Linked DNA regions of Homo sapiens: all the other regions are reported to be linked to region 1. The links are microRNA targets in miRTarBase. Many come from high-throughput screens and were not tested one by one. Region 1 holds a microRNA gene; each other region holds the end of a gene's coding sequence. Distances are from middle to middle.

What was found. Region 1 holds the annotated microRNA hsa-miR-4684-5p (CUCUCUACUGACUUGCAACAUA, at 2,149-2,170, shown strand). A microRNA usually pairs through its seed, bases 2 to 8, with sites in the 3' UTR of a target mRNA and lowers its output. Matches are read on the target gene's strand: a 7mer-m8 pairs with bases 2 to 8, a 7mer-A1 pairs with bases 2 to 7 and ends in A, and an 8mer does both.
Region 2: the mRNA of RNF207 is a reported target of hsa-miR-4684-5p. Seed matches in the 3' UTR shown: 7mer-m8 at 1,099-1,105 and 7mer-m8 at 1,403-1,409.
Region 3: miRTarBase lists ZMAT2 as a target of hsa-miR-4684-5p. The part of its 3' UTR that is shown has no 7-base or 8-base seed match.

The regions. Positions count from the first base shown.
Region 1 is chr1:22,717,382-22,720,381 of GRCh38, forward strand. MIR4684 (microRNA 4684) reads left to right here and starts at 2,136; the gene lies at 2,136-2,217. All of the region lies in intron 1 of EPHB2 (EPH receptor B2), which reads left to right. RefSeq lists an enhancer at 1-472.
Region 2 is chr1:6,218,577-6,221,922 of GRCh38, forward strand. It overlaps RNF207 (ring finger protein 207), which reads left to right. Exons shown (of 18, transcript NM_207396.3): 18 at 660-2,723. The coding sequence ends at 831. It overlaps ICMT (isoprenylcysteine carboxyl methyltransferase), which reads right to left. Exons shown (of 5, transcript NM_012405.4): 5 at 2,617-3,346. Among named protein-coding and RNA genes, the nearest start is that of RNF207, 14 kb to the left of the region's middle. RefSeq lists silencers at 259-459, 890-1,075.
Region 3 is chr5:140,705,222-140,708,567 of GRCh38, forward strand. It overlaps ZMAT2 (zinc finger matrin-type 2), which reads left to right. Exons shown (of 6, transcript NM_144723.3): 6 at 392-1,465. The coding sequence ends at 535. Among named protein-coding and RNA genes, the nearest start is that of ZMAT2, 6.4 kb to the left of the region's middle.

The DNA.
Region 1 (3,000 bases):
GACACCTGTCTCCCCAGTACCCCCGTGTCATCTGGGGGCTTGCCTAGGACACCCTCACTAGGTGAGCTTCCTGGAGCCATCTGCCCCCCTGCTGCAGCCCCTGTGGGGTGGGAGTGTCCTCAGAAGAGGGGACCTTGCCTGCTGTGTGGCCTTGACCAAGTGATCCACTCTCTGAGCCTCAGCTTCCTCATCTGGAAACTGGAGAATACCGCGCATGTGTCAGAGGCTCATGGCGAGGATTCAGTGAGATGCTGTGTACCATGACTGGCAGAACTGCCTGGCACTCAGCTGTGTCCATTCTTTATTAGTTTCCGTAACCATTAAATGTCAGCAGCACCCTCGTGCCCCTGGCCAGAATGACTTGTCCCTTTCTCTGAAGTCCTACAGAGGCTTTGCTTAGCCCTGATCACTTTCTCTCCTGTTCTATAAACAGCAGAGCCTGGGGGTTACAGGAAATGTGTGTGGAGTCAGACTGCTCCGTACTGTGTGTCCTCTGGCTTGTGTTTTCACCTCTCTGAGCCTTGGTTTCCTCATCTTTCAAATGGGGGTAATCATTGTTCCTAGCTCTTGAGATGGTTGTGAGCAATGGATGTGTTAATCTGAGGAAGACTAAGCTGAGTGTGTGCCTCAGGTGTGCTAAGCTTGCAATAAATGTGAACGGTTGCTATCCTTGCTTTCTACCAATGGGAAGCTCAATTCACAGTAGGGGAACAGGGGGCCAGTGTACCAGGTTTTTCATCTCCAGCTCTCCCCCACCCACTGTGTTCTGAGCCTTACAGGGCAAGGGTCTGACTGGCTTGCCAAGTAGCTGAGAGGCCCCTCCAGCCTGCCCACTCAGGGTACCATCCAGGTTTTCTCAAAGGCCCCCTCCCCACTCCAATTCAGCCTCCCTAATCTGGGAAAGGGGTAGACTCCTTCATGGCTGTACCCTCCTTCTTTGCCCAGTGCCTGCCAGGCACCACCTTCCCTGCCATGATCATGGGAATGGCTGTCAATTCTTTTTTTTTTTTTTTTTTTTTTTGAGACAGAGTATTGCTCTTGTTGCCCAGGCTGGACTGCAGTGGTGCAATCTCGGCTCACTGCAACCTCTGCCTCCCGGGTTCAAGAGATTTTCCTGCCTCAGCCTCCCTGAGTAGCTGGGATTACAGATGCCTGCCACCATGCCCGGCTAATTTTTTGTATATTTTAGTAGAGATGGGGTTTCACTATGTTGGTCAGGCTGGTCTCGAACTCTGACCTCAGGCGATCCACCTGCCTCGGCCTCCCAAAGTGCTGGGATTACAGGTGTGAGCCACCGCGCCCAGCAGCTGTCAATTCTTGTGCCAGACATTGTACTAACAGCATTATGTGTGTTGCCTTGTGCAGTTGCCCCAAGAGCCCCACAGGTCGTTGTATTATTGTGCCCATTTTACAGATGAGAAAACCAAAGCTCTGAGAGGAGTGACTGGCCCAAGGACACCTAGGGAGTGGTGAGGCAGCGATTGAAACCCAAGTCTGGTGACTCCAGAGCTCATGCTCTTCTCCACTTCTAGAATGTGCCTCCCTGCTCAGAGGAAAGGCTTGGCTCTGATGAGGGTCTCTAAGGCAGCTGTCCAGCTTCCAGCTCCATCAACATCCTGAGATAATGCAATGGGAGGGTTCTACAACTCACAAACCTGCCATAAAAATGCAATCTCTGTGATAATGGTCAGAATAATGTTGTTCTAACTTAGACAAATCGGGTGTTAACTCATTATGTTGTAAGGGGCGCCTCCACAGAGAATGGAGACTACGAAACAGTCACAGGGCCATTTGCAGCTTGTACTTCCAAATACAATAGCTCATCAGGCCTTCACAGCCATCCTGAAAGGGGCAGGAGCCACGGGGCCCACTTTAGAGATGAGGAAACTGAGGTCTGGGAGATAATATGACTCGCCCAAAGCCAGCAGCGGGACCAAGCTTGAAGCCCAGGGCCAATCTTAATAGCTCATCTATCCAGTTCAAATTCTTAGCCAACATTTGAAAATCAAGAGATTTTACAGAAAAGTCCTGTTTCTGGCGTTTCTGAAAAGTCAGACAATCTGGTTTCACAGGGCCCACATTCCCACATGGCCACAGTTGGCTGGAGTGACTGCCTCTTAAGACAGAATGTGTGAGCACCAGGGGTACCTCTCTACTGACTTGCAACATACATTTGTCTTGGTGTGTTGCAAGTCGGTGGAGACGTACCCTTGGTGCTCAACCCCTGTAAGGGCTTGAGTTTGCCTCCTGGATCTGCCCCTGTTACCCTGTGTGACCTGGAGTCAATTGCATGGCTTCCCGAGCCTCAGCTCTCTCTTCTATAAAATGACAGGGGTGAGACTCAGTGATTTTGGAGGCCTCTTCCAGCTCCAGGATTCAGTGCCCATTGCCAGGGTTCAGGGGTTCAGGCAAGGGAAGGGAGAGCTACAAAAAGTACAGGACTCCACTCCTGAAAAGCATATCACTTATCTTTAGCAAGCCACCACAAAACCTACTGGCTTAAAACAATAATGATTTCTTAGTTGTCCTGATTCAGTGGATTGGCTGGGCTCAGCTGGGTGCTTATTCTGTTCCCCGGGTTGTCAGTTGGGATCACTCAGGAGGCTGCACTCAGCTAGGTTGGGCTGGAAATTCCATCGTGGCTTCACATACATCTTTGAGGCCCTCATAGAGAAGGCTGGAAGGCTGGTCCCCCTACGCTCCTCGCTATCTCCCATCCTTTGCTAGTCTAGACTGCGCCTCTATCCATGGCAATTAGCTCCCAAGATGGTGAAATGGAAACTGCAAGGCTTCTTAAGGGCTGGGCTCTAATGTCACAAAGTGTCACCCCTGCAGCCTTCTGTGGTGGTCAAAGCCAGTCACAACACCAGCTCAGATTCATCCCAGGCTTCCTCATCAGGTTCAAGGAAAAGGAAAATATACTGGGCTTGATTTTTTTGTTTTATCCTTGAAGAGAAGTCCCATTTCTTGCTCAGCTGTTCAGCATGGAAAATTTAATGG
Region 2 (3,346 bases), 16 Mb from region 1:
TAGACAGAACCCCATTTTACCATTATAAACAGCCATGGCTGCTGCCTGCATCCACTTTCACCACTGGGAGCTGCACGTGCTTATGCTAGGGGACTCGGGTCACTGAAATGAGAAAGTGACCGAGGACTGTTCCCCAGAGCCAGCGCATGCGCCCCAGTACCTGCCAGAGGAAGACGGCTGTGCATTAACACCTACGACACAGTCACAGGCTGATCTTTGTGTATTTTGCTTTCAGGAAAACATAGTCACAGGGCAGAGGACAGCACTGTAGAATGAGAACCAGAAGAGCCTAGGGGTGTGCAGAGGGTTGCTGAAGTGGCCAGAGTCACAGCGCGGCTGGTGACAGAGCAGAGTCTGGCCCCAGCCTCCCCTGCACAGCCGCCATTTATTAGCTCAGATGCTTCCAAATTCAAAATGCAGTGTCACCAGAAACCGCTGACACAGGCTGATGGTTCAGCAACTCACAGCCATCCCCTGGGGATGGGCTCCTACTCAGAAGTAGACAAGGTCCTTTTGGAGACAGAGCCTTCCTGGTTCTCACTCACTGAGGCCTTCCAGGAAGACGTTCCATTCTGAGTGCTTTGGCCCAAGTGGATTTTAGTGCAGGGATATGGTGAAATGGGGGAGCGGGCTGGGCTTACATGAGGCTGTCCCTTTAGGAATAATCCAGGAAGTGTCCCGGAAAAGAGAGAGAAGACATCAGAGCCTAAAGGAAACAGCTGGGCTCCGAACGGCCTCTCAGAAGAGCCTCTACTGAAAAATATGGATCATCACAGATCCAAACAGAAAAATGGGGGCGATGTCCCCACATGGAGGGAACACCCGACTTAGCAAATGGGACCGGTCCCCAGGGTCAGGCTCTTAGAGCAGGCACAAGACTGGGACACTGGACAGAAGGTTGTTCCCATGATGGTTTTTTTTATTTTTTATTTTTGAGATGGAGTTTCGCTCTGTTGCCCAGGCTGGAGTGTAATGGTGCAATCTCGGCTCACTGCAACCTCTGCCTCCTGGGTTCAAGCGATTCTCCTGCCTCAGCCTCCCGAGTAGCTGGGATTACAGGCGCCTGACACCACGCCCCGCTAATTTTTTGTATTTTTAGTAGAGATGGGGTTTCACCATGTTGGCCAGGCTGGTCTCAAACGCCAGACCTCAGGTGATCCACCTGCCTCAGCCTCCCAAAGTGCTGAGATTACAGGGGTGAGTCACCGCGCCTGGCCAATGTTGTTGTTGTTTTTAAGACAGAATTTCACTCTTTGTTGCCCAGGCTGGAGTGCAATGGCGCAATCTCTGGCTCACCGCAACCTCCGCCTCCCAGGTTCAAGCGATTCTCCTACCTCAGCCCCCAGAGTAGCTGGGATTACAGGCATGTACCATCACACCCGGCTAATTTTTTGTATTTTAAGTAGAGAGGGGGTTTCTCCATGTTGGTCAGGCTGGCCTCGAACTCCCAACCTCAGGTGATCCGCCCACCTCGGCCTCCCAAAATGCTGGGATTACAGGGGTAAGCCACTGTGCCCGGCCGGTTATTTCTTTAAAAGGTAATCATTTGTCAAGAGTAAAACCCAGAAGCTCTGACAGGCCATAATTTCAGATCCTTTGGCTTGGGCAGTTTTGATTTTCCCCGTGTTTGCATGGCATGAAGTCTTCGTCCTTGTCACAGTAGCTTGGGATGACTCCCAGTCCACATGGAAAACATCAGGGAGTGACAATCCAGCAAGAAATCCCTCGCTAGTTCCACACCTACGCACCGAGCGTCGGTGTGCCAGGCCCTGTGCTGGGCAGAGTGTGGTATGTCAGGGTGTGCCGGTTTTAGGTAACAAGACTCCACCACTGAGTGGCACCTGCCCTATTGCAAAGGAATCCAGTTCCTCCGGAATAACAGTCCCACTGTTAACCTGGTGCTACTGGGAAGTTCCACACAGTAATCTGAGCAGTGACTCATGGAAGGATGAGGAACGTTTGCTCCAGCTTCTCTCCCTTTCCAGCAAGGGCAGAGCTCCTAAAGCCAGGGGTTAGCACCTGGCCAGCTTATGTGGCAGATGGTCTCAGTTACAACTTCGCTGCTTTCCCAAACTCCTGCAGCCCTCCTGAGTCCGACTTCCGTTGATAGCAAGGCACTGGGTGGCAGCAACCTTTTTTCTAGTAGTTTTTTCCCAGCAGTTTTCCATTTCTCCACAGTATCCTTTTCATTTAGAGGAGCTTAATAAATGCTTTTTAAAAAGTAACCCACGTGACGTAAAATTTTACAAGTTTTTGTGGCAAAATGATGCCCAGATAGTCACATTTAAGCAAATATTCAGCTTGATTCAGTGATTAACAGCAAATGGGTCTACGTGCTAACATGGCAGCACATTCAACACATAACACATCACTCACATTGACGTCCACTGTCCCTGCACCTGCTACTTCAGGGGCACTGAGGCTCCTGTTCCAAGGCCTTACAAACCTATGTGGTGGCCTGCAGGGCAAAAGGAATTATCATTACAACTGGTTAGAGGTAGGAATTCAGAAAGAAATTGAGGAGGCCAAACACACGTCGTTTGAGGCTAAAGGCTTAAGACGCTTCTTACCCAAGAGTGACCTCAGAGTTTCACATCCCAGACAATCACACTGTGGTTGAGTGAAATCAAGTGCAGTTTTATTTAAGAACTGGAAAGAATAATCAGTATCTGTGAAAGAAAATCCAATTTAGAATATTTAAATAAACATTTATGTAAAAAGAAGAGTAGAATAATTACTCCGTTCAGTTCCTCTCCTTGCAATGGGATAGGCTGCCTCTGCTGCAGATGGCTGGGTCTTCCAAACCCATGACAAGTGCCACGGCCTCTGCAGCAGTGGCCCAGAGAGTAGGCACTTCCCAGCATGACAGAGAGGCCGAGGCCTTCTAACCTTGCCAAACCACTACAAAAGCAAACTAGGGTGGGCAAGCCCAACTACCTAAGGCAGGAAGAAAGTGCAGTGAAGGGACAGTGGTGTGCTGTGCGTATCGTGGGGGTACTCCTAAGCAGCTAGCTGTTGGCGAGATCTTACAAAGCCTGATCGGCTAACGCAGCTTCCTGGTTTAGGAACATTTTCCCCGGTCGTATCAATCCCCCAGGTTGGTAAATGAACAGAAGGGATGAATAAAGCCTACTTTTTAGGCTCAAGGAGCAGCTCGTGAAGGGGTGGCAGGTGCGCTGCTGCCTTGTTTTCTGTCCTGCTAAGAGGCTCACCCCGCGACCTCTTCTGTAAACTGCCACTCAGCAGCGGCCTGCAAGCCCTCACGAAAGGCTTCACTCTATGCTGTTTCCAGGTAGCTTTGTTCTGACAGTACCTATTTTCCACTTCAGAATCTCCACTTTAAAAC
Region 3 (3,346 bases), not on the chromosome of region 1:
TTAGAGGAGTTTAGGTTTGCAACAAAATTGAGAGGGAGTTATAAAGATTTCCCATATACCCACTGTCCCCCACAACATGCATAGCCTCCCCCATAATTTTTTTTTTTTTTTAACTGCAAGAGGAATTAACTAAATGTACCTAGTCCTAAAGAGACCCATGAAATCAGGCTGACTGGGTCAAAATTCTGTTTCTTCCACTTACTGGCTGTGAATCTTGGGCAAGTTATATAACCTCTTTGTGCCTCAATATCCCCATATTAGAGATCTTAATATACATGAAGTACTCAGAGCAATTTCTGGCATGTACTGCATGCCCCAGAATGTTAGTTGTTGTTACAAACAACATTTGGCTGAGGAGTCTAAACTGATTCTGAGTGATTTTTCCCTCCAGGAGGAAAAGGCCAAAGCGTACAAGAAAGAGAAACAGAAGGAGAAGAAAAGGAGGGCTGAGGAGGACTTGACATTTGAGGAGGACGATGAGATGGCAGCTGTGATGGGCTTCTCTGGCTTTGGTTCCACCAAGAAGAGTTACTGAGGCTTTCTGTGCTTGGCCTGACTTTGGCCTATGCTGGACCTAACTTTGCGTGTGTGTGTGTGTAGTAGGGGGTCATTTCTTTTTGGGTAATGGGAAAGTTCTTAAGAGTGTCAATGGGGAGGGATAGAGGGTGGGGGCTCATGGTTTCCCTCTACTTTGGGAGAGGGCACAGATTGCAGAGGTAATGCTGTGGCATATTGCTTCTGCCTCAGTGTATCACTGGAGTCACAGGACCCTGCCCACCTGAGTTCCCAATAAAGAAAAACCTCCCCTTCTGAGGCTGCTTTCCCAAAACTCCCCCTGCATCTTTATCTCTTCATCTATCCCACCTCTTGTCTGAACATCCCACCTTTATCCTGTGTTCTGCCTTTGTTTTAATTTTAACTCATGTTCATCCTGCAACAGAAGCATTCTCTAGGTCCCAGTTTCCAGTTGATTGCATATCCTTGATCAGCCCTTTTTCCCATCCTGCCCTATGGTTCTCTAGCCACCTGTGCATGCATGTGTATTTCTGCCTGGTTCTATGGTGTGTGGATGTGTGTGCATGAATCTGTCATATAGAGGGGGTCCGAGCTGGAATCCTAGAGCATTGCTGCCCTGGGGCCTGATGTTCTTGGCTTCCTCAGAGCATGTAACAGGAAATTAAATGGGATGAGTGTTTGGTGTGGTTTGTGTCTGATGAGTTTTTTAACATTCAGGTGTAGATTGTTTCAGCTTCTCATGTTTCATTTTCCTGAAGATTTATGTTTTTGTCTACCTTGTGAGCAGGCTTTTGGAAGAACCTGTTTGATGCAAAAAAGAAAATGAAAAACAAAACAAAAAATCCCCAAAACCTTATTATGGGAGCCCGTCGGTCTTAGAAGCTGTTTGACATGTATAATAAATGGCATTGACTGGGCCTGTTTTACATTTGGTGAGAACATTCCATAATCTTCCCTGTGAATATTTGTTTTTCCTTCTCATGCTGAGGATTTCCATATAGAGTATTTTATTCTTCCATTTTAAATCTTATTTTTGCCTAGGTTTTTTTTTAGCATGAGTTATGTTTTCGTCTGATAAGGGATCTATGTCCAGAGAAGTCTGAACCAAAACGATTCCTATCATTTCAGACTCCTTTGATCTTTTGTTTTTGGAACAGCAGAGCTCAGGATTGAACATAATGTTTTTTCTTTTTTTTTTTTCTTTTTTTTGAGACAGTCTTGCTCTATCGCCCAGTCTGGAGTGCAGTGGCGTAATCTTGGCTCACTGCAACCTCCGCCTCCTGGCTTCAAGTGGCTAATATTGTATTTTTAGTAGAGATGGGGTTTCACCATGTTGGCTAGGCTGGTCTCAAACCCCTGACCTCAGGTGATCCACCTGCCTCGGCCTCCCAAAGTGCTGGGATTACAGGCGTGAGCCACTGCACCTGGCCCTTAGTGTTTTTCTTACTGTCTGCTAGACACAGAATTACTTAATTTTGGCACTGTTGAGATTTTGGGCCAGATTATCATTTGTTGTAGAAACCAATGCTGGCATTGTAGGATGTTTATTATTTTGATTTTGATTTAGGATTAACTTCATCCCTGGACTCTACCTGCTAGATGCCAGTAGCACCCTCTTCCACAATTGTGACAACTAAAAATGTCTATGCCTCTGAGAAAGGCAAAATCCCTCCCTACCCACATTGAAGACCACTAAGAAGAAGCTAGCTGTCTTCCCTACCTTGGTCTGATTTGAGAATTAGATGGCACAGACTGGCAAACTCAAAACAGAAACTCACAAAACTTTGATATCCACTGGATCAAGTACTATGCCAAGTCAAGGGGATGCAGAAGAAAAAAATAGCCATACATACACGAAGAACTACAGTCACATTAACTTCAAGCAGATGAAGCCTGTAACTTGCTGGTTCTATACCCTGAAAAAATGGACCTGTAAATGAATCTGTTTGGGTTAACAAGGCTGCCACCATATAGCTGGTTTTCATTCTCTGCCCCATCAAGCTCCTCAACTTTCTGTATTATCTGAACCACAAAGCACCATACACCTCCCTTTGGACTTTTGTACAAAATTCCCTTACTGTAAGACATGCCCTTTGTCTAATTTCTGATGCTGAATCTTGCCACTGGGAACACTGAATGTATCTTCACCTATGGGCTGAAGGCCTGGCTCAGTTTTAGATACAGTAAGTACTGGGCAACTGGGGGCAGATTGGTGCGTGCTTTCCTTGGCAGGATTATGTGCACTTCAGGTCCCTTGGGTGACAGTCTTCTTGTTGACTAGGTATTTTGTTACCCCTTTCAAGGCAGGCTGGAGGTTTGTGAGTTCCTTCCATGGTTCAGTTTTTTTTTTTTTTTTTTTTTTTTTTTGAGAGTGTCACTGTCACTCAGGTTAGAGTACGGTGGCACGATCTCAGCTCACTGCAACCTCCACCTCCCAGGTTCAAGTGATTCTCCTGCCTCAGCGTCCTGAATAGCTGGGATTACAGGTGGCCGCCACTATCCCCAGCTAATTTTTTTGTATTTTTAGAAGAGATGGCGTTTCACCGTGTTGGCCAGCTGGTCTTGAACTCCTGACCTCAAGTGATAGCCCTCCTCGGCCTCCCCAAGTGCTAGGATTACAGGCATGAGCCACCACCCCTGGCTTCATTCTTCAGGAAACCATCTAGTTCAATTTAGCTTCAAAGAATGTCTTTCCCTTTTTGGTACAGTGGGATCTTACCTCTGGTTGCATCTAAAAAGCAATTCTGAATTTAAGAATCTTTAAACTCTTGGGACTGGTTAAGTGGTTTGAGTCTCAAAGGGACCTAAGTCATGGAGTGTCTGGAGGTGC